Linked DNA regions of Homo sapiens: region 2 is linked to region 1. The links come from fine-mapping of genetic effects on gene expression. A gene starts in region 1. The other region holds a variant in brackets. All regions are shown on one strand. Distances are between the middles of the regions.

Region 1 (16,920 bases):
GTAGAGTGATTTGGTGTAGAGCGAGTAACAGGAGAGGAGAGCAGAGAAGAAATGGAGGGCCAGATAATATAGTGCCATGTGGGCCATGGTAAGGATTCGGGGTTTTACTCCAAGTTAGCTGGGAAGCCAGCTTTTAGCACTATAATCCCTTTATTTAAAAATCTGGACCTTCTCACCAGCCCTACCCCAAAGAATTTAGTTACCTGCCCTCACAAACTCTGCCTTGATGGTGGCTGCCTTCAGGCTAGTCTTGGGCATTGTGAGTACAATGGGGGCAAACTTGACCTTTGTGATCTTCAGGATGCTTTTGCCATCAGGGCACAAGCCAGGGATTCGGAATCTCCCATCACTGTCTGTCTGGGTCAGCAGCTTCGGCGTCTTGGTCAGGAGGTAGATAGCAGCCCCTGAGGCTGGGGCACCTCCGGGAAGGGAGACAGCCCCATGAAGCATGAAGTCCTGGCACATGCAGGCATCACAGTCAGCATTCACCTGGCCCATTGGGCAGGTCAGGTCACAGGCTGTGGAACAAGGGGCCATATCAGCAGGGATTCTATGGATTCTGGCATTCCTTCAGCCACATCACAGATCACTTCCTCTCCTCCTTGGCCTTTGCTACCCTCCCTTATCAGCCTGCATGACTAACTCCCACTCATCCTTTAAAACTTATCCCAAGGCCAGGCGTGGTGGCTCACACCTGTAATCCCAGGACTTTGGGAGGCCAAGGTGGGTGTATCACCTGAGGTCAGGAGTTTGAGACCAGCCTGGCCAACATGGTGAAACCTTGTCTCTACAAAAAATACAAAAATTAGCTGGGCATGGTGACACGCACCTGTAATCCCAGCTACTAGGGAGGCTGAGATAGTAGAATCCCTTAAACCCAGGAGGCGGAGGCTGGAGTAAGCCAAGATTGCGCCATTGCACTCCAGCCTGGGCAATGGAGCAAGACTCTGTCTCAAAACAACAACAACAACAACAACTTAGCCCAAAACACCTCCTCTAGGAAGCTCTCCTGGATTCCCCCAGGCTATGATAATTGACCCTGCCCTGTGTTCCTATATTATCCTGTATATCTCTCATTAGGGCACATAGTAGATGCTCAGTTAATACGTGGTGAGTAAGTAAATGAAGGAATCCATCAGTCTCAAACTGACCCTCTAACTCCCTCCTCATTCTTCAGCCTCACCCACCACACCCTGCCCAGTGCCAGGAGGGAGGGTGGTACCTGTACAGTCCTGGCCCATGCAGTGCTGACCCTCTTCGCTGGCCTCACTGCACAGCGACACCATCTCTGCCAAGCAAATGCGTGTGCGAGTCTGGACCCCAGTCTGACCACAGGCAGCTGAGCACTTGCTCCAGGGAGACCATGGGCTCCAGATGCGCTCTGTGTCTCGGCGCAGGGATCCTGCAAAGTGAGATCAGCAGACGGTCTGATTTCCCTCTTGAGGGAACTCTGTCAGGAAATCTGACCCTGAGGCTGTTTCTTCTCTGGTAAAGACAAGGTTTCCATTTATGTCGTAGATGTCACTGATATTTATATTTACTGCAGTGATTTTTCCAACAGACAAAATTCTTGAGGAAGTGAGGTCTCTAATTTGCACAGAGGCACCATATGGGCTAGGGGTGGCCCTGAGCGGTGCTTGTTGGCCAAGCACTGGGACTTTGATATGCTGTCCTAGGATGTGCAGGGATAGCACTGTCTTTCTTCTTCACCAGTGTGGAAACGGCCACATGCTCCTATGGAAGGACTCCCTGGGAATCAGGGACCCCTGGGAAGTCGGGGCCTGCAACATGCAATGACTTGGACAAGAAGCCCATTTCTGCCCACCTTCCTCACCTCTGGCCTGAGGCCTGTGTACAAGAATGGGGTCTTCACACCTTGCTCAGATCAGCCTGAGCTCCCATCCCAGATGACCACCACTGGCGTCTGGGCCTGGGGGATCTTGTGGAACCCTAAGGGAGAAGATCCCCATCCAAGAAGGGAGCAGGCCTGCTCCCCATAACATCTGTATTATCCATGGTGGGAGGGGATATAAATGCATAGACTCTGCAAACACGGACATGGTTCAAACCCCAGCTCTGCCTTATCAGCTATGGAATCGTGAGAAGTTACCTAGCTTCTCTGAACCTCGTGTAACTTGTCAAGATGGAGATCTCTCAAAGGTCAGTTGTAAAGGTTGAATAAAGTGGATAACTAGCACAGTATCTGGCACATAGGAACAAGAATAGAAACTAACACTCAGTGAGCATTTACCTGGGTTAAGCCTCTGCATTCATATCATTTAATCCTCATTAAAAACCCCTATGAAGACTTACTATTACCCAGGTGTCACATATGAGAAACCTGAAACTAAGAGAATTTCAGAAAATTTGTCTAGGGGACACATCATATTGCGGGCTCAGAATTCAAACCCAAGCAGCCCCACTTCAGAGCCTGTGGTCTTCACCATGGTACCACTCAAACATAATAAAATAGGTTGAATAGAGAGTACCCATAAACACAAAACACTATTGGAAAAGTTCTGGCATTAATGACACTACTTGTTATTATTACAGAGTCCAAGCATATGCATGTGTGTCACTACTTGTTATTATTACAGAGTCCAAGCATACGCATGTGTGTGATGCTGAGAGTTCTGGTGGCCAGAGGCAGGTTCTCCCTCTCCCTGAGTAGAGGCCAGTGGGAAGTAGCGGGTGGGGGTGGGGGCGTTCTGGCTTACCTGGTGGGCAGAGGAAGCGTACGGTGTAATTAGAGCAGTTCTGGCCAGGCCGCTGCTCCCTGTTGAGGCACCAGAAACCCTCACGGGGACTACCATGGACCACCTGGCCAGTGCTGCCCGCAGGTGTCCAGTCAGTGGTCCGAGCCTCTAGCCGCAGGGGACGGGCACATACACGGTCCCCATAGTAGAAGCGAATGGCGTCCAGCCGCTCATAGTCGCCCTTCCCGCCTGGGTAGTCGATGTTGAACCATGTTGTCCACTCACCAGGGCCTGAGAGACATAGCCAAATTGCGGAGGAGCCGTGATCCTGGTGCGCTCCAGTTCTCCTTTCCCTCTCACCCACCCCCAGCTGGCCTCAGGCCCTATCACATTTGTCTCTCCAGTATCTCTCCAATCCCCTCTTACACCTGCCACTGCTGAGGCCTCCATTCAAGCTCTCATCAGCCTGACTGAACCATGTCAGTCACTTTCCACATCAAGGCTCCTCCTCAATGCCACTCACACCCATCCCTGACCCTGCAGTCAGGGTGAGCTTTCTTCATGTGGCTCGGGCCACATCACCTCCAGCTTTAAGATCGTCTAGCTAGGCATTCAGGGTGCTGGTGAGCTGTCCCCAGCCATCTCTCCATACTCATCTCCCCACTCCCTTCCCACCAGCCTGTGCTCTGGCCCCAGCAAGCTCCACAGCATTCCTGAAAGGTATCAGGCAGATTCCTGATTCTGAGCTGTCTTATATACTAAGTTCCTTGGCTGGACAGAGATGGAGGCCAAATGCTTGTAAAAGTGGGTTTCCATGGGACCCTGACATCATGCCCTGGCTTCAGAGATCCACTTCGGAAGCTCGTTAAAGGCTGCCCCTCCAGCCCCTCCCTGCTTCAGCCACAACTCACTCTCCAGGGTGTCGGCAGGCTTGGCAAAGATGCTGGGGTTCTTCTTCCCAGGCTGGACTCTTCTTACTGACTGGGTGAGCATCGTCTGTCTCCCTGAGGGCCAGAAGGAGAAGCTAAGTGAGAGGCCAGGACTGGAAGTTACAGCATTCCTCAAGATGCAGGGAAACAGTGTGAGGTGGTGAATGGAGCATGAGCACCAGGCATGGGTTCAAACCCCACTCTGCTACTTATTGCTGTGCAATCTCAGAAAAGCTTTACTCCTCTGAGCCTGTTTCCCCATAAAATAGGAATGCACTAATAATTGCTGCATCCTAGGGTCCTGGTGCATTATTCAGGTGATAATGAATGTAAAGAGACCTGGCTTGTAGTGCACACTCAGTGAATGGTATCTCCCTTTTCACTCTTGTTCTAGAAATGGATTATCAGATGCTCCTGAGCAGCCAGTGGCCTGGGACTCCTGCTTTGGTGTCTGCACCAAACCTTCTTGGCAAAATGGAGCTTTGTTTTCCTCATGTGTAAAATGGAGATATTTATTCCCATCTCGCAGGGTGATTCAGTTGGCATGAGGATTCCATGAGCTAGAACGTAAAAGCCTCTGAAGTATATGCAGATTGACAGTGTGGGCTCCTGAGACTCTGCCAGTTTCTAACTGTGTGACTTTGGGCAAGTTACTTAACCCAGCTGACCCCATGTTCTTTCATCATAAAATAAGGATAATGATAGTTCCTGCCTTAGAGTATTGTGGGGATTAAATAAGCTCATTCATAAAATCCACTTAGAACAACACCTAGCACATAACGCATACTGAATAAGTGCTAGCAACTTCTTTTAGCTCAACGCCAGAATAGATGGCCATTTACTTTCCCTTGGGAGTCCACTCTCCCATAAAGACTCCTATGGCCTAATTGGGGCAGCGGTCCTCAATTTTCCATACGAGGCTGGCAGGGACTGCCTGAGGATGGGTACAGGGTCCTCGGGCCACAAGCAGTTCCAGCTGTACCCTACCTGAGGCTGGGTTGGGGTCTCCAGAATGGGAAGGAGAATGCGGAGCAGAGGGCTGCAGAAGCTTTGACAGGCAATTAACGCTTACTCCAGGAGCCAAATCAGAATTCTCTATGCTGCTTAATTGGGGTGATAGGAGCTCTTTTAATCAACCTAATCTGATTTCCCCTCAGATGGTTGAATGTTAATCATCTTCACAAGCAGCAGCTGTCAGGGTGGAAAGAGCAAGGCAGGAGGCAGGCACATACAGGGGTTGGCTCCAGGCTGAGACAGCCTTTGTTCCTGCATTTGTAGCCACAAATCCTGCAAGGCATACAGCTTTAAAGGAGGGTTTTGAGCTTTTTTTTTTTTTTTTTTTTTTTTGCTTTTGCTTTACCTGAGTATGTGCTTAGAAATCAGGAGAGGAAGGGGAGGAGGTGGGAGAGAGTGTGCAGGGGAGGGCTGACGCTTAGATGCCTTGGGAAGTCTTCTGTTCCACCAGACAAATTCTTTCTACGAGTTCCTTCCAGAGCTCAGTATCACCAGAGGATGCAGTCAGAGGGCAAGGAGACCGGAAGGGGTTCTGGTGTGTCTGTGAAATTTGGCTGCAGGGTCTAAATGAAATTGAGCTTTGGGCCAAAAGAATCTTCATAAAACTAAAAACAGACCAAACCCCAAACCTGCTTCTGAGATCTCACTGATGCCCTGTGATTCCCTATTACTTTGGCTGCCAGGAAGCTCGGAGCTCAATTTGGTACTCAAGGGCTAAAAATAACCCTCTTATCTTTTTTTCCTCCCTCTGAATGACTGCTCATCCCTCTTCTCATATAAAGGTTCTGTTTTGTGAGTTTTAATAATGGGAACAATCTCAAGTTTTGGAGAAAAACAAACAGGGTATAAATTACGAATAAATCCATAAAGTGGCCTCAGGTCTTAAGGCCTTGCTGTGTCTTAAGGCAGATGCATAGTTCAGTCCCAGACCAGACACAACCTCACTGTGGCAAGTGGAAGATTTGGGAGCCAGCAGATACTTAGCCTATACCCAACACAGATGTGACTTCCAGGACCAGGAAGGAGAACACCCAGGCCTTGGTCCCCACCATCTTTCCCCCAAGCCCGTGGGAACGTGGCAAGAGGTAGATGTGGGTGCTTCACAGAGTCACTGACTCTGGAATGCGGTCCCCTGGGAAGTTTCTCAGATCCAGTGACCTGTAAAGAAACAAAGCTTGTCAGGTTTCATATTTCTGAATCACCGCTTATGGCTCAAGCAGAAATATTTCTTGACCTGTCAAGGAGGGAAAGGTGGACAGAATGATATGAAAGTGATATCTGCCTGAGTTGTGAAACCAGGTAGCTTGGGAGGTGCAGAGGCTCAGAATCTGAGTTCAAATGAGGCAGACTAGGTTCCATCCCTGGGGGTAGGCTCCAGGGCCCCACATGGAGATGAGGCACAAGGACAAGCAGGGGCGAGGAGGTTCCTTGCAATGAGGAGAGTCCAGGGCTCACCCCCAGCAGCCTCTTGGTGACTCGTCACTTCTAAAACCCAGGCCTGAGGGGCATTTGTTTTGCCATCCTTTGATGGAGTTCACACTCTCACACAGGCGGGTACATATTAAGGCCGTGAAGACTTGGCTCCGACTCCAGTGGCCTCTCATAAGGCAGGCTGGCTGGAGGGTGCAGATGCCTCGGACATACCACCTCCATGAACACATTCCCAGATGTGCACGGGCTGCAGCTGGAACACATTTCTGGCCTTTTTGTTTGGGGCCTGACTGGGAGTTACACAGCCAGGAGCCAGCTGACGGAAAGCAGAGGGGATGCATTGTGAGAGGCCAGGGCTCCCCAGTAACTGCTGAGCGTGGGTGAGGAACTGCAAGGGTCAGGAGAGGAAAGCAGGCCTGGGACAAGGGCAAGGAACTATGGGGCGTGCGTGGCCCAGGCCGCAGCTGAGCAGAACATTTTTATGTCTCCCCAGAGCTCCGGCCAACCCAGAATCTGACTCGTTTCTGGGGATTCAAAAGTGGTTCCCTTCAACATCCTAAGTCCAGGGTGTGGTAGGAAAGGGAAGAGTCCTCCTCTCTAAAAAATACACATATCTGAAAACACTGGGATATTCCAGGGGAAGAAAAAACCAGTCCCATGCTGCAGACCTTCTAGCTCTAAAACCACTGGCCCCACCACTACCTGTTTCTCGGATGAGGGAGCAGAGTCACCAGGACGTCCCAAAGGCCTCCACATTGTGTGTATCCCTCTGGGCTCCAAGCAGGGAGCTGAGCAGTCTGCTGGCCTGCACTGCATTCAGCCTGAGCCTGAGCCTGCTCCAGGGATGTCTGGAGGCTGAGGTGGCCTGAGACACCTTGTGGAAAAACCATTTCCCATCTGGCAGCCCACAGAGGTTTCTCAGCATCTCCGCCGTTTCCTCAGCATATGCCCTGATGGTTAGGCTTGCCATCCCACGCTCCTCAGAACACTTGGACAAAGCAGACTGGCTGACCGCAGGGAATAAAGCAGGGCACCCAGAGGTATGGAAACCCTAAGTGGGACCATCTGGGGGTTCCTGTCCTCAGGTGGGGGAGGGAGAGGACTTTGGGCCAATGGGGGAAAGCAGATTCCCAAAGCAGAAAGGGAGTCTTCTCTGTGGGAGATGAAGGATCAGGCAGCAAAAAGTGGGGGGAAGTGGGGAGAAGGGAATGGAGTAGTCAGGGGAGGGCAGGAGCAGTTGAGTCCAGCAGTGGGGTGCAGGGATGGGGTGAGGGGAATAGGAGTGGAGCTCACCGTGTCTTGAGCAGGACTCCTCAGCTGGGGGTCCAAGCCTTCGCCTCTCCAGCAGTCCAGTGCCGGCCTTATATAGCACAGCTGGTGGCTCAGCCTGTGGCAGCCAGCCAGAGGAAGCAGCAGCGAAACCAGATCTGAGCATGAGCCTCCCTCTCCCCTCCCCATGTCCCCTTGCAGTTCACAGAGGCCAGGATTTTATGTCCAGATCCTAAGGAGGAGATGCCGCAGGACCTGGTGATGGGCCAGGTGGGCAGTGGCCTGGGGCATCACAGTCCAGAGCAGAGAGAGGGGTCAGGAGGTGGGCTGGGCACTAGAAACAGCCCTGGGAAGGGGCCACGGGGAATTCTAGATCTGGGCAGCATTTCATGGCCCGGGGGATGGTGTGCTCTTGCCTAAGCCTAGCTTGCTGATGCCCCACATTCCCCTGGCCCTGGCTCGCCCACACAGAGAAAAGACTTTGCTGGTCTTAGCACATACTCCAAACACTCTTAGGCACACAGGCCACCTTGGCCTCTCAGCTGGGTGTGTCTGGTCTGAGTTGGGCAACTACTCAGCTTCTCTGGCTTCTGAGGGAACACTCAGGGAACCTCAGAAGGGATAAGGGACAAAAGAATTGTGGGGCATAGGTTGTCAGCTGGTGAGAACAGTTCTTCCTTTCTCCCCCCCACTTCCATCTGAGTGCCTGCTGGTACCCACTGAGACCCCAGAGCTCCAGCATGTGGACTCTTCTGAGACCCTGATGCTCATATATGTGCATGCGTGTGAGTACGTGTCTGCCTTCAGGTATAGGCATCCACCAGCATGTGAACAGCCAGTGTTACCCATAGGGGGCGTATGCAGCTGCATGTGCTCTGGGGCTTCACACCCCCACTCCCGGCCCCCTGGCCCCAGCATGAGGTTATCTGTTTGCACAGACACTGGTTCTCTAATTTTAGCATGTGTTAGAATCACCTGGAGGGCGGTTAAAGCAGATTTCTGGACCCCACACCCAGAGTTTCTGATTCAGTGGGGCCTGAGACTTTGCATTCTAACAAGTTCCCAGATGAGATTGATGCTGTTGGTTCATGGATCACATTTTGAGATTGACTGGTCACAGTGATAGAGCCCCAGTTGAAGGAAGAAGATGAAGAGCGAGTGTACTAAGGACCACAGTGGGAGCTTCCCAGGTCCTGCCCCATGTAGCAGGCTCATCTAGCCTGGGCTGGGCTTCCTGCCTCATGCCAGCAACTGGAGATGGAGGCCTGGTCCTGTGGCCATCCACGCCAGGGTCAGCTCACTCTCTCCACATACCTTTACCGAGCTCTTATTCCCAGGCTCTAGACTGGGCACTGGGAAGGCACAAGAAAAGAGATGTATCCTTGCACTCAGAGGAAAGAGCCTCACGTGGAAATGATCCCGTAGTACAACAGTGCATACCCACATGCCAGAGAGTTCTGTGTGTGTGTGTTTATGCCTTTTCCTGTGTGTATGTGTCTTTCTGTGTGTGTGTGTGTATGTGTGCGTAAGAGCTGTTTTTTCTGAGCATTGCCTTTGACAAGATATACTGGGAGGCTGGGTGGAGTGGCTCACGCCTGTAATCCCAACACTGTGGGAGACAGGGGCGGGTGGATCACTTGAGGTCAGGAGTTCAAGACCAGCCTGGTCAACATAGTGAAACCCATCTCTACTAAAAATAGAAAAACTAGCCAGGCATGGTGGAGTGTGCCTGTAATCCCAGCTACTTGGGAGACTGAGGCAGGAGAGTGGCTTGAACCCAGGAGGCAGAGGATGCAGTGAGTTGAGATCGTGCCACTGCACTCCAGCCTGGGTGACAGAGTGAGACTTGGTCTAAAAAAAAAAAAAAAAAAATCTGCTGGGGAAGAGAGTGGGGGTGGAGAAAGGATGTTGAGCAGCATGGTTCCCAAGTAGACCTGGGGCATAGATCTGATTTGCTTTATCTCCTGGAGCCCCGTCTCCCTCCTGGCCACCAGCCCTTGGTTCATAAGCCCTGTAGTTGGCCCTAGTCTGGTCCAACTTGTCAGAGCCAAGCCATGACTCAGTTTCAGCCATGGCTTTGACTGCAGACGTCTGAACTGAGTGAACCCCATGTGAAATCTGATGGCCTAAGGAATAGACAGACAGACAGGCTGAGCCACAATCCCCAGATCAAAGGACAGGAGAAAAATTGAAATTTGGAATTCAGAAGCCTAGTCCTGGCTGTTTCTGATTCTGATATGCGACCGTGAACTAGCAAGAACCCAAGTAACCCTGGGCCTCAGGTGTGCAACGGGAGATGGACTGAGTGAGTTTGCAGGCCCCTGCCAGCTCTGAGATTGCAAGGTTTGAGATATACAGATGCTCTTTGGCTTATAGTAATGTCCCAATAAACCCACTGTAAGTTGAAAATATCATAAGTAAAAAAAATACGCTTAATGCACCTAACCTACTGAACATCAGAACTTAGCCTAGCCTACCTTAAATATGTTCAGAACACTTACATTAGCCTACAGTAGCCTACAGTTGTACGAAACCATCTAACAAAAAGCCTATTTTACCATAAAGTATTGATTATCTCATGTGATACATTGAATACTGTACTGAAAGTGAAAAACACAATGGTTGTACAGGAAAGTACAGTTTCTACTGAATTTGTGTCACATTTGCACATCATAAAGTCGGAAAATTGTAACTTGAATCATCCTAAGTTGGGGACCATCTGTACTGACAGCAAACAGAGCTGGGAGGAGAGAGTGGAGGGAACGACTGCTCCTACGTGTCTGGCAGAAGTCAGAGGAGCCAGTGTGGAGTCAAGGTCAGGAGGAAGTCCAGAGAAGCAGATATGACCACCAAGGCTGGATAAGGACAGCAAGAGAGATACACAGGAAAGGAAGGTAGTGGGAGGTAAACCAGAGGGCAAGGTCAGGGTAATCAGCTGCTCTCCAAGGCCTTCATTCTGTGGAATGCCAGGGTGGGTAAGAGACGCCTCCCCAGCCTCCCAGTCACCTCCATCTCTTTCTGTAGTGGGAGGCAGGGTACCCTATGGGTGAGGATTGGGCAAAGTGGAGTGTTTTAGGCCAGGATTCCTGCCTGGGTCTCCTCATTCAGCCCAGCACTCACACTGAGGCCCTCACTTACCTAGCCCCAAGTGGCCAGTGCGTGTTAATATGGTAAGTACAGGGTTGAGGGCTGCGTTCCAATTCCACCATGCCATTTCCGTCCACCTGTCTCATATCTTGCCTCCTCCCATACTCCCATCAGAGTCCTTTCCTGTCTCCAAGTAGGAATGAGCTGTGTGAGCTGCACAGGGCTAGACTGGGGAAATCTGAGCCTGCCCTCACTCTCTCTTCCCAGGACTCCTTTGGGGGGGAAGCTATTGCTGTCCTCAACCAGGACCCCAGAATAGAGAGGGCTTTGGAGGTGGCCGTAGGTCTAGACTGTCCAAGGCCTGGCCTGGGTGGGTCAGCCTCAGCCACGAGTGGCCATCTGGGGCTTCTGCAAGCCAGGCTACTCTGCAGCCACTCCAAGCTTCTGCCTGGAACATGCTGGAAACCCATCAATCACCCCATCCCTGCCCAGGGGATGAAGGGACTTGGAACCCAGCTTAGCTAGGCCACCTGTAACCCAAGCCTATAGCCAGGGGTCCACACCCTGCACCCTGCAGTGGGGAAAGGAGCTTGGGAACACTGGGAGGGGTCTGACCTGATCCTGGTGGCTCAGGAGGAGGGTGCTCTATCTGACTCTCTGACCACCTGCCCACCACCTCTGTCGTCAACCCCTGTGGCTGGAGGAGGCCTTGGAGGCCTGTGGGGGGATAAGCAGCTGATAAACCTTGAAGAATGGAAGCCTTGGCTGTAGTTCTGAGTGACCATCAGTGGCTGCTGCCCCACTGCCTGGGAACACAGAAACCCAGAGTCCAGGGTGGTAGAGGGGGCTCACCCTCTGACCAAGTTGCTCTCCTCCCTCTCCTGGGTACCCTCTGTCATTGTTCTACCTCTGTGCCTTTATAATTTTATTCTCCAGCTTCCCATCTTGAAATACGGCCCTTCTCCCTCACCAGTGTGAATGTCCTTCTTCAAATCCCTGTCTCAGTGTCCTCCTTCCTGCCCTCTGCAACTACCCAGGCCCATCTTGAGTACTTCTTCCTCAGATCTCAGATAATAATACACAGTCACATGTAGATGACACTCTGTCATTTACAAGGCACATTAGTGGTGATCATCTCATCTTCAGTTTCACAGTCAATCTGTGAGGCAGGGATCAGCATGCCCATTTTACAGAGGATGAACTGAGGCTAAGAGGCATGAAGTCACTCAGCTATGGTAGGTCTTCAGCTCCAAGTTGCCCCTGTGAACCAGAGGTCTAATGTATACCTTGTCATAGGGTCCTCAGCTCAGAGGACCCACCATGGAAGTCACACCCCAACTGTAGGCTCCTCAGTGGGCACATGCCTAGAACAGTCTGTCCCACCTGCCTGGCATACACACCCTGCTTCCTGTATATATACTAATTCCAAAGATGTTCCCATCTAACATAATCCAGCTATCTACCACATTGTGGTGGATTAAATATGGCCACACATTCTTTGCAACTCTCCCATTATGAGGTGGAGCCTATTTATTCATTCCTTTGACCTGGACTGACTTTGTGACTTGCTTTGAATAAAGGAATAGAACAGAAGTGATGTTGCATAAGTTCTGGAGTTTAGGCCTCAAGAGAGCTTACAGTTTCCACCATCGCTCTCTTGGAACATTGTCTACCATCTAAGGAAGTCAGTCTATCCTACTGGAGGATGAGAGACCACATGGATAAGAACTGAGACCCTGAGCCAATGGCCAGACAGGTGAATGAGGCCATCTTGAACTTTCCACACATGCAGTTGCCTGAGAAAGTCCAGATGAGACCAACAGAGGAATGGTCTGGACCTTGATTCTGTACAGCCAACCCACAGAATCATGAGAAATAATAAATCATTGTTTTAAGCCACAGAGCTTTGGAGTGGTTTGTTATGCTGCAATAGATAACTGATACACTAAGAGTAAAAGCTCTTTCAGTTGCAAGTAATAAAGCACAACTCAAAATTTTTTTTTTTTTTTTTTTTTTTTTTTTGAGACAGAGTCTCACTCTGTTGCCCAGGCTGGAGTGCAGTAGCATGATCTTGGCTCACTGCAACCTCCACCTCCAGGGTTCAAGTGAGTTTCCTGCCTCAGCCTCCCAAGTAGCTGGGATTATAGGTGAGTGCCACCACGCCTGGCTAATTTTTGTATTTTTAGTAGAGACTCAGTTTCGCCATGTTGGCCAGGCTGGTCTCGAACTCCTGACCTCAGGTGATCCGTCTGCCTTGGCCTCCCAAAATGCTGGGATTACAGGCATGATTCACCACGCCCGGCCTCAAAATGGTTTAAGCAGAAAAAGAATCTGATGGTTCTGATGATGGAAATCTTGGTAAAAGTTGGATCTAGGTACTCAGACAACATCATTAGAACTTTTCTTTTTCCATATCTCAATTGCTTCCTCTGGATGGCTTTATTCTCAAGGAGGCTGTAGCAATCTGTATTTTCCAAAGATGGCTGCAATGGTATTTCCCCTTCCTTATGTTCTCATACAATGTAACTACACTAATCCACCATCAGGAGATAGAATCTAATTTTCCTCCCCTTGAATCTGAGCTGGCCTCATGACTTACTTGTAACCAATAAGATAAGGTCTACTTTTTTTTTTTTTTTTGAGATGGAGTTTCTCTCTTGTTGCCCAGGCCGGAGTGCAATGGCACAATCTCAGCTCATGACTACCTCTGCCTCCCGGGTTCAAACAATTCTCCTGCCTCAGTCTCCCGAGTAGCTGGGATTACAGGCATGCGCCACCACACCTGGCTAATTTTGTATTTTTAGTAGAGACGGGGTTTCTACATGTTGGTCAGGCTGGTCTGGAACTCCTGACCTCAGGTGATCTGCCCGCCTTGGCCTCCCAAAGTGCTGGGATTACAGGTGTGAGCCATTGCGCCCAGCCCTTTTTTTTTTTTTTTTTTTTTTTGAGACAGTCTTAATTAGCCAGTCGTGGTGGTGGGCACCTATAATCCCAGCTATTTGGGAGGCTGAAGCAGGAGAATCACTTGAACCCAGGAGGCGGAGGTTGCAGTGGGCTGAGATTGTGCCACTGCACTCCAGACTGGGTGACAGAGCCAGACTCCATCTCAAAAAAAAAAAAAAGGGTTAAGAGTCATGATATGAAAAAACCACTTTAATAGCTGTCAACCTCAGAGTTTACCCATCATTTGTTCCGTTCCAAACCCACCTATGTAACCCCTGCCATCTTGTAACCATAGCAACACACTCCAGAACAGTTGAGCAAAACCAAGCAACCATAATAACAACTCCAACTTAGGAAATAGGAGAAAAAGAAAGAAACCTTCAGCACTGCACATGCCACACTGGTTGCTGTGAATACTGCAGCGTACTGATCAGCACCTAGTCTTGTAAGCATGTGCTTACTCAGCGGCCATAGGTGGGAGAAGATTCCCAGAGAATGGGCTATGATCACAGCAGATACTCCAAAACGTGCTCAGTAGAGCTCTCCACCCTCTGCATAACACGCTCACTGTGGTCACCCCAGAATGCTTCTCAAGCTTAAAGCAGGGTCACCTCAGTGTTCCTATGATGGATTCAGCCCAGTCAGGGCCTTATGTTCACACACAGCATCTATAGCGTCCACCATGCTTATCACAGTGTGTTCACACACACCCTAGAGGCCCGTGTTTTCACCACTGACTACAGAATTCATGCAATGTCACCATGACATTCAACAAATTTACCATAGTATGTTCACAGTCCATAGCGTCTTCACCACACTTTCATAGTTTGCTCTCATTCAGTGACATTGTAGTGTTCACTGCATGAACCAGCTGAGTTCCTACTCTATATGTGCACGTCATAGTGTTCATACCACTGTATCCCCCTTGTATTTCCCATGAACATCCACATTCACAATTTTGTATAGGATTAGGGGGTGCACATTCACCCAGGTGTTATCTCAAGAGTGTTCACCCTCCCCTGGCTATTCACACTCACCATGGGTATGCCCTGGGTGTTCTAGGGCATAAGCTCACCCATGCACCCACCAGACTCTGCTGCTCTCCTTCCCATGACCCGAGGCCTCTTCATGACTCTCTTGAGAGGTCCCAGATGGCTCTGGGTGTGGTGTGGCTTCAGCTCTGGCCAAGATGCTGGCAGCCCAGAAAAGCCTGCAGCAGTGACAGGGGTGGCCTTGGTAGGGGATGAAGTGAGGTGGATGCTGGGTAGATGCCCTCTCTGGCTATATGTTCTCCGGACACGTGGGTATTTTATTGGTTAGAAAACACAGCTGTGAGAAGTTGAGTGGGAGGAGCCGCCCTCTTTCCAAGCAAAATCTTCGCCCATATAGCACCTGGGCCGTAAGGGTTTGGTCCCTGCCCAGGTCACCACCAGGACTCTAGCCCAGGGAAGGTGAAATGGAGGTTAGAAAGGCTGGGTCGCCCTTGGCAACTGGGCCTACACAGATGGCGTGGGACAGAGGGTGGGACAGAGACAGACACGTGGCCCTGCAGACCATTCTTAGTGGGTTTCCCTTTTTTCCTCAGAAGCAAGGCAGTCTTCAGTGTGGCCGAATCTGGGCAATGTTTTCTCTAGGAGAACAAGAGCTTCAAGGGCAGGATGTTGGGCAGTGACAAGGAAGACAAACAAAAGGGAGAAGGAATTTGAATCCCACCCCCAATTTTTAAAAGTTGAAATTTTTATATTGTAAAATTCAGTCTTTTGGATCTACACTTCTGTGATTTTTGACAAATATAATCATGTAACACCATCACAATTAAGATAAAAAATATTTCCAAAACCTCAGAAGTTTCCTTTGTAGTCAGCCCTTCTCCCCATCCCCAATTACTGACAACCACAAATCTTTCTTTCACTGTGGTTTTGCCTTTTTGAGAATGTCATATAAATGGAGGCATATGGTAGGAGCCTTTTGAATTTGGTTTCTTTCATTTAGTATAATCGTCCATGGTGTTGTGTGTATCAACCGTTCATTCCTTTTTACTGCTGAGTAGTATTCATTGCATGTACGTAGCACAATTTGTTTCTTCATTTCCCAGATGAAGGACATGTAGATTGTCTACAGTTCTTCAGCTTTTTGTTTTGTTTTGTTTAGTTTTTTGTTTTTTGTTTGTTTTTTTTGAGATGAGGTCTCGCTCTGTTGCCCAGGCTGGAGTGCAGTGGTGCGATCTCAGTTCACTGCCACCTCCGCCTCCGGGTTTAGGTGATTCTCCTCCCTCAGCTTCCCACGTAGCTGGGATTACAGGCTCCCACCACCACGCCTGGCTAATTTTTTTGTGTTTTTAGTAGAGACAGGGTTTCGCCATGTTGGCCAGGCTGGTCTCGAACTCCTCACCTCAGGTGATCCGTCTCCTTGGCTTCCCAAAGTGCTAGGATTACAGGTGTGAGCCACTGCATCTGGCCAGTTCTTCAGTTTTTTAAAAAAAATTTTATTCTTATTTTTTTGAGACGGAGTCTCGCTCTGTCACCTAGGTTGGAGTGCAGTGGCACAATCTTACTGCCCTGCAATCTCCCCCTCCTGGTTCAAGTGACTCTCCTGCCTCCACCTTCTGAGTAGCTGGAGACTACATGCACCACCACGCCTGGCTCATTTTTGTATTTTTTTTTTAAAGAGACAGAGTTTCACCATGTTGGCCAGGCTGGTCTTGAATTTCTGACCTCAGGTGATCCACCGGCCTTAGCCTCCCAAAGTGCTGGGATTACAAGTGTGAGCTACCGCGCCCGGCCCAGTTCTCTAGTTTTTAGCAAGTACATTTTAGCTATAATTTGTACACAGGCTTTTGTGTAAACATGTTTTTCATTTCTTTTGGGTAAATACCTACAAGTAGGCTCTATGGTAAGTGTATGTTCAACTTTATAAGAAACTGCTAAACTGTTTTCCAAAGTGATGGTACCTTTTACATTCCCACCAGCAATGTATGAGTTCTAGTTGCTCAGCATTCACATCAGCACCTGATATTGTCAAGGTTTTATGTTTGATTATTTGTTTGTTTTTAGCCATTCTAATAGGTGTACAGTGTGATCTCATTGTGATTTCAATTTGCATTTCCCTAGTGACCAATGATGTTAGGAATCTTAATTGCCATTCATATATCTTCTTTGATGAAGTATCTGTACAGATATTTTGCCCATTTTGTAATTGAGTCATTTCTTTTTTTTTTCTTTTTTGGAGACAGGGTCTCGCTCTTTTGCACAGGCTGGAGTGCAATGGCATCATGATGGCTCATTGCAACCTCCACCTCCCAGGCTCAAGAGATCTTCCTGCCTCAGCCTCCCAAGTAGCTAGGACTACAGGTGCATGCCACCACACCTTGCTAATTGGGTTTTATTTTTTGTAGAAATGGGATTTCATGTTGCCCAGGCTGGTTTCAAACTCCTGAGCTCAAGTTATCCTTCTGCTTCGGCCTTCCAAAGTGCCGTTTATTTTCTTATTATCGAGTTTAATGTGTACTTTATAGATTCTGGATACAATTCCTTTATCAGATATATGTTTTG
Region 2 (8,000 bases), 80 kb after region 1:
CTCGGCTAGAGCACAGTGGCTATTCACAAGCATGATCATAGCACATTGCAGCCTAGAACTTCTGGCCTCAAATGATCCTCCCGGCTCAGCCTCCAGAGTACCTCAGACTACAGGCTCACACCACCACACCTGGCTTAGAGAACACATTTTGTTTACTCCTGTCCTTTTAAATTCATTGAGGTTTGTCTATTGCCTAGCATATGGCCTATCCTGGAGAATGTTTCATGTGAATGTATATATTCTGCTGCTGTTAGGTCAAGTGTTCTATGGATGTCTGTTAGGTCTAGTTGATTTATATTGTTTTCAAATCTTAGATTTCCTTGTTGATCTTCTGTTTATTCTATTCATTATTGAAAGTGGGGACCAGGCACGTGGCTCACACCTGTAATCCCAGCACTTTGGGAGGCCGAAGTGGGCAAATCACCTGAGGTCAGGAGTTCGAGACCAGCCTGGCCACTATGGTTAAACCCTGTCTCTAATAAAGATACAAAAATTAGCCAGGCATAGTGGCACGTGCCTGTAGCCCCAGCTACTCGGGAGGTTGAAGCCCGAGAACTGTTTGAACCTGGGAGGCGGAGGTTGCAGTGAGTTGAGATCATGCCACTACACTCCAGCTTGGGTGACAGAGTAAGATTTCATCTCCCAAAAAAAAAAAAAAAAAAAAAAAAAAAATCACTGACAGGAAAGATATCCACCTGAACAGGTTTTTAATGCCGATGAACATGCCCTATTCTGAAAGAAGATGCCACAAAAGACACTTATTAGTAAGGAAGAAAATCGAGCACCAGGATTTAAGGCAGAAAGGGATAGGCTGACTATTGTTCTGTGCAAATTTGGTCAGGTTTATTATCAGAACTTCCCTTATCTGTAAAGCTGATAACCCCCAAGCCTTGAAGAGAAAAGATAAACACAAGCTGCCACTCTTGGTACAACAAGAAGGCCTGGACAAGAAGAACCCTTCCTCTGGATTGGTTGAATGCTTTGTCCTTGAAGTCAGGAAGTATTATATCTTGCCAGTAAGGAGCTGCCTTTTATTTATTGAGACGGAGTCTTGCTCTGTTGCCCAGGCTGGAGTGCAGTGGTGCGATCTTGATCTTGGCTCACTGTAACCTCCACCTCCCAGGTTCAAGCAATTATCCTGCCTCAGCCTCCCGAGTAGCTGGGATTACAGGTGTGTGCCGCCACGCTTCGCTAATTTTTATATTTTTAGTAGAGATGGGGTTTCATGATGTTGGCCAAGCTGGTCTCGAACTCCCAACCTCAAGTGATCCACCTGCCTCAACCTCCCAAAGTGTTGGGATTACAGGCGTGAGCCACCATGCCCGGCCAGCAGGAGCTTTTCAAGTTCTTTTGATATTGGACAATGTTCTTGGCCACCCGGAACCCCGAGTTCAACACTGAAGGTGCAAGTGGTCTACTTGCCTCTGAATAGGGACGATGTCTGTAATTCATCCTCTAGATCACGGGGTCATAAGAATCTTTAATGCTTATTACACCCAGTACTCTATGGAAGGGATCGTCAACACTATGGGAGAGGACCTCAACCAAGAGAACATCATGAACGTCTGGAAGGATTACACCATTGAAGATGTTGTAGAAAAACATGTGAAGGCCATCAAACCTGAAACAATAAATTCATGCTGGAGAAAAATTGTGTGCAGATGTTGTGCATGACTTCACGAGATTTATGACAGAGACTGTCAAGGAAATCAAGAAAGAGATTGTGGATATGCAAAAGAGATGTGTGTGGGGTGAAGGGTTCAAGATATGAATCTTGGAGAAATCCAAGGGCTACTAGATGTCACACTAGAGGAACGAATAGATGACTTGGTGGAGATGAGTGCCTTCGAACCAGTGCAAGACGATGAAGATGATGTAGAAGACGCAGTGCCGGAGAACAACTGACATTAGACAATCTGGCGGAAGTGTTCCTAGTATTCAAGACTGCTTTTACAACGTGGACCCTTCTATGACATGGGCACTGAAACTAAAGCGAGTATGCCTGCCTCCCTTCTACCTCCACCTCTTCCTCCTCTGCCACTCCTCAGACAGTAAAACCAACCTCTCCTCCCTGTCCTCAACATACCCAACGTGAAGACAATGAGGAAGACTTTTACGATGACCCACTTCCACTTAATGAATAGTAAATATATGTTCTTTTTGTTTATTTAGTGGGGTTTTTTAATAGTAAATATATATATATATATATATTTTGAGACAAGGTCTCACTCTGTCACCAGGCTGGAGTACAGTGGTGTGACCTCACTGCAACCTCTGCCTCCCAGGTTCAAGCAATTCTCGTGCCTCAGCCTCCTGAGTAGCTAGGACTATATAGATGCATGATGCCATCCCCAGCAATTTTTTTTTCTTTCTTCTTTTTCTTTTTCAGTAGAGACAAAATCTTGAACAGGCTGGTGTTGAACTCCTGGCCTCAAGTGGTCCTTCTGCCTTGGCCTCCCAAAGTGCTGGGTTTACAGGTGTTAGCCACCATGCCCAGCCTATTTTCTCTTCTTCTTTAATAACATTTTCCTTCCTCTACCTCATTGTAGTAAGAATACAGTATATAATACGTTTAACACACATAATATGTGTTAATCAACTGTTATCTGTAAGGCTGTCGGTCAACAGTAGACTATTTGTAGTTAAGTTTAGGGGGAGTCAAAAGTTATATGCATCAGCATGGTGGCACATGCCTGTAATCTCAGCACTTTCGGAGGCCGAGGCGGGCGGATCACTTGAGGCCAGGAGTTCTAGACCAGCCTGGCCAAAATGGCAAAACCCCGTCTTTACTAAAAATACAAGAATTAGCTGGGCGTGGTGGCACATGCCTGTAGTCCCAGCTACTCAGGAGGCTGAGGCAGGAGAATCGCTTGAGCCTAGGAGGCGGAGGTTGCAGTGAGCCGAGATCAAGCCATTGCACTCCAGCTTGGACCACGGTGAGACCCCATCTCCCCACCAAAAAAAAAAAAAAGTTACATGCAAATTTTCAACTGCGAGAGGGGTCGGCAACTCTAACCCCCCATGTTGTTCAAGGGTCAACTGTATATCTGTTGTTTTTTTCTTTTTTGAGATGGAGTCTCGCTCTGTCACCAGGCTGGAGAGTAGTGGCACGATCTTGGCTCACTGCGACCTCCGCCTCCTGGGTTCAAGCAATTCTGCCTCAGCCTCTCTAGTAGCTGGGACTACAGGTGTGTGCCACCACGCCCAGCTAATTTTTATATTAGTAGTAGAGATGCGGTTTCACTGTGTTGGTCAGGGTGGTCTCAATCTCCTGACCTCGTGATCCACACACCTCAGCCACCCAAAGTGCTGCTGGGGTTACAGGTGTGAGCCACTGCACCTGGCGCCTGCCTGCCTTTTTTTTTTTTTTTTTTGACAGAGTCTAGCTCTGTCACTCAGGCGGGAGTGCCGTGGTATGATCTCAGCTCACTGCAACCTCCACCTCCCGGGTTCAAGCGATTCTCCTGCCTCAGCTCCCGAGTAGCTGGGATTACAAGCACACACCACCATGCCCAGCTAATTTTTGTGTTTTTAGTACAGACCCGGTTTCACTGTGTTGGCCAGGCTGGTCTCAAACTCCTGACCTCGTGATCCGCCCGCCTCAGCCTCCCAAAGTACTGGGATTACAAGCGTTAGGCACTGTGCCCGGCCTTTTTTTTTTCTTTTTGAGACAGAGTCTCGCTCTGTCGCCCAGGCAGGATTGCAGTGGGGTGATCTTGGCTCACTGCAACCTCCATTTCCCAGGTTCAAGCAATTCTCATGCCTCGGCCTCCCCAGTTGCTGGGATTACTGGCGCCCTCTGCCACACCCGACTAATTTTTGTATTTTTAGTGGAGATGGGGTTTTGCCATGTTGGCCAGGCTGGTCTTGAACTCCTGACCTCAAGCAGTCTTCCCACCTTGGCCTCCCTAAGTGCTGAGATTTCAGGTGTGAGCCACCATGCCCGGCCAGTTGTTTTTCTTTATGTTTTATGCATGTCTTATATATTTTATGCTCCTTAAACAGGCACTTCACCAAAGAAGATACATGGATGACAATTAAGCACTTGGGAAGATGCTCAACATCATTAGTCATGAGGAAAATGCAAATTAAACCAGAGATACCACTACACACCCCACCCGTGGAAGTGGTTTAAATTTAAAAAATAAAACGAACAATTCTACATGTTGGAGAGGATATGGAGTAACTGAAACTCTTATACATTGATGGTGGGAATATAAACTGGTAACTACTCTGTAAAAACAGTTTTTATAAACATCCACCTACCATAAGACCTAGCAATACCCACTTCTAGGTGTTTAGAGAAGTGAAAACTCTTGCTCAGACAAAAATCTGTACAAAAATGTTTACAGCAGCTCTGTTAGCAATCACTAAAAACTGGACATGACAGGTGGATGGGTAAATAAATCATGGTACAGCCATACAGGAACAGAGAGGAATGCAACATGAGTGAATCTCAAGGCATCATGCTGAGCACAAGAAGCCAGTTCAAAGGGTATGTGCTGAATGTTTCATTTAAATGTCGGAAATGGCAAAAGTATTGTTGGAGGACAGGTCAGTGTTTGTAAAGGATTACAAGTAGAGGAAGGTGTGACCACAAAGAGCAGCATGAGGAAATTTTGGAGTGATGAAACTATTGTGTATCTTGATTGTGGTAGTGATTATGCAAATCTATGTACATGTTTAAAAAGTCATAGATGCACTCAGTATGCAATGAGGATAAAATAAAAAATAATAATTTAAAATCATAGATCTGGCCAGGTGTGGTGGATCACACCTGTAAAAAAAATACAAGTAGCAGCAGGACATGGTGGCTTGCACCTGGAATCTCAGCTACTTGGGAGGCTGAGACCTGGGCAACAGAGA[C/T]CCTCTTATGGTGGCTCACGCCTGTAATCTCAGCACTTTGGAGGATGAGGTTGTGGGATTGCTTAAGACCAGGATTTCGAGACCAGCCTGGGCAACATAGGAAACCTGGTCTCTAAAAACAAAACAAGCAGTGGCTCAAGCCCGTAATCCTAGCACTTTGGAAGGCGGAGGTGGTCGGATGGCTTTGAGGCCAGGAGTTCTAGACCAGCCTGGGTAACATGGTGAAACCCTGTCTCTACTAAAAATACAAAAATTAGCCAGGCATGGTGGCCCCAACTGTAGCCCCAGCTACTCTGGAGGCTGAGGTGGGATCACTTGAGCCAAGGAGGTGGAGATTGCAGTAAGCTGAGATCGCACTTCTGCATTCCAGCCTGGGTGATAGAGTGAGATCCCCTCTCAAAAAAACAAAAAATTTTTTTAAGACAAAAAAAAAAAAAGAAATCGTAGATCTGTATACCAGAAAAATTCAATTTTACTGTTAACTTAAATATAAAAATAATTGCATGGAAGCATTATTTACAATAACCCAAGAGGTGTAAACAATACCTGTCCATCAACAAATGAATGGGTAAACAAAATGTGGTGTACCCATATAATGGCATATTATTCATCCTTAAAAAGGAATAAAATTCTGGGTGGGCGCGGTGGCTCACGCCTGTAATCCCAGCACTTTGGGAGGCCGAAGCTGGCAGATCACCTGAGGTCAGGAGTTCGAGACCAGCCTGACCAACATGGTGAAACCCCATCTCTACTAAAAATACAAAATTAGCCAGGTGTGGTGGCGCATGCCTGTAATCCCAGCTACTCAGGAGATTGAGGCAGAAGAATCACTTGAACCTGGAAGGTGGAGGTTGCAGTGAGCAGAAATCGCGCCATTGCACTCCAGCCTGGGCAACAAGAGCAAAACTGTCTCAAAAAAAAAAAAAAAAAAAAAAAAGGAATAAAATTCTGATGCATGCTACAACATGGATGAACCTTAAAGATATTATGCTAAATGAAATAAACCAGAGACAAATGAACAAATATTCCAGATTCCACTTATATGAGGCACCTAGAAAGGCAATATCATAGAGACAGAAAGTAAAATGGTGGTTGCCAGGGGCTCAGGTGAGAATGGGGAGTCATTATTTAATGGGTTTTGGGATGATGAAAAAATTCTGAAAATGGAAAGTAGTGATGGTTGCAGAACAGTGTGAATATATTTAATACCACTGAACTGTACACTTAAAAATGGTTAAAACGGTAAGTTTCATGTGTATTTTAGCACCATAACAAAACAAACTTTAAAAATTTAAATGAAGGCTAGAAAACATGTTAAAATACACTATATATAATATATAATGTATATATATGTAATATATAATTATAGATATATACTATGTAATTATATATAGTATATATTATTTATATAATATGTAATATATATATTATATATATGCAAAATCTCGTGAAGAAAGTGAAAGAAGAGCTGGCGGCTGTCTCACGCCTGTAATCCAGCAACTCCGGAAGCTGAGGCAGGAGGCTCGCTTGCGGCCAGAAGTTCGAGACCAGGCTGGGCAAGAAAGCCAGAACCCGTCTCTACGAAAAATACAAAAACTAGCCAGGTGTGGTGGCGCGTGCCTGTGGTCCCAGCTAGTTGAGAGGCTGAGGTGGGAGTATTGCTAGGAGGGAGTTTTCTAATAGTTGGGGCGGGGGGGGGGGGGGGGCATTTAAGTGCAAAGGAATGGTTAATACATATTCCAGATAGTGACTACCCATATAGCGAGTGAGGGGTATGATAGGGGAAATGGGCCAACGAAGGCTTCAAAGATGTTAACAATATACTTTTTGAACTGGATGGGAGACATCAGTGTTTTATTACTTTTGAATTATGTATGCACATAGACTATATACATTATTTACGAGATATACTTAAAAATCTTTAAGATGTTTCTATATTTTAGAGACAGGGCTTAAAAGTCCTGGGCAATTAGCTGGGCACAGTGTCGTGCGCCTGTAATCCCACCTAGTTGGGAGGCTGAGGCAGAAGAATCTCTTGAACCCGAGGTAGAGGTTGCAGTGAGCCGAGATCGCGCCACTGCACTCCAGCCTGGATGACAGAGTGAGACCCTGTCTCAAAAAAAAAAAAAAAAAAAGTCCTGGGCAGCAAGGCCTCCACTTCACCCCCTAAAGGTTGCCCCAAGAGCACCGTGTGACTGCTAAGGTATTTCCGGAGTCTAAAGACGATTATTCAGGTCTCATTTGCATACCCATAATACACTGCAAACAGTATTTTTTTCGGAAAAACATTTATATATTGCTTGACATTTTTAAGTATGAGAATTTTGCATGCAGAATTTTTTTGTATAAACTTTCTCAGGTAGTAACCCTTGGGATTAGTAGACACCATCAGTGTACTAGGAATTGCAGTTACCCGAAAATTGAGTTACAGAAGTAACTGGTATACTCTGGTTTCTCTTCAGATCGCATAAATCTTTCGCCTTTTACTAAAGATTTCCGTGGAGAGGAACAACTCTGAGTCTTAACCCAATTTTTTGAGGCCTTGCTTTGGCAAGGCTATATGTGGTAATCCAACAATAGAAATTATTTTTAAGTTTGTGTGTTCCTTTTTCTGTTCAATGGTGCTTTTGATATTGTTGTAAAGCAGTGACTAGCAGATTCTGTGTGGTAAAAGCACTGAACCCTGTTTAGTTCTTTTCTCCCTACCTTATTGGTAATTATTTCTGTGTATATATGTTCCAAAGAAATGCGGCTTGTATATTCATGCTTTTCAACTTTTTGTGATAGACAGTTGATACACAAGTAGTACCTCCTCCGGGATCTTCTTAGTCAAGACTGTTTGGTAGATGCATGTTTTTTGTTACTTGTAATGTACAGTATTCAGTTCATTTTCTTTTTGCAGCACTGTCCGGTTGAAACACAACGCGAGGATCGGGCGTGGTGGCTCACGCCTGTAATCCCAGCACTTTGGGAGGCCGAGGCAGGACAATCAAGACCAATCCTGGTCATCAAGGCAGGAGAATCAAGACCATCGAGGTCAGGAGATCAAGACCATCCTGGCTAACACAGTGAAACCCTGTCTCTACTAAAAATACAAAAAAAATTAGCCGGGCGTGGTGGCAGGCGCCTGTAGT

What was found.
Region 2: its variant is fine-mapped to the expression of CILP in whole blood (TOPMed, PIP above 0.99).

Annotation. Positions count from the first base shown.
Region 1 is chr15:65,204,065-65,220,984 of GRCh38, forward strand. It overlaps CILP (cartilage intermediate layer protein), which reads right to left and starts at 7,409. Exons shown (of 9, transcript NM_003613.4): 1 at 7,364-7,409; 2 at 5,631-5,797; 3 at 3,608-3,700; 4 at 2,718-2,987; 5 at 1,223-1,402; 6 at 204-518. The coding sequence starts at 5,691. RefSeq lists an enhancer at 8,038-8,939.
Region 2 is chr15:65,288,743-65,296,742 of GRCh38, forward strand. It overlaps RNU5A-1 (RNA, U5A small nuclear 1), which reads left to right and starts at 7,309; the gene lies at 7,309-7,425. RefSeq lists an enhancer at 7,436-8,000. The variant C/T (reference allele first, on the strand shown) is at 4,867.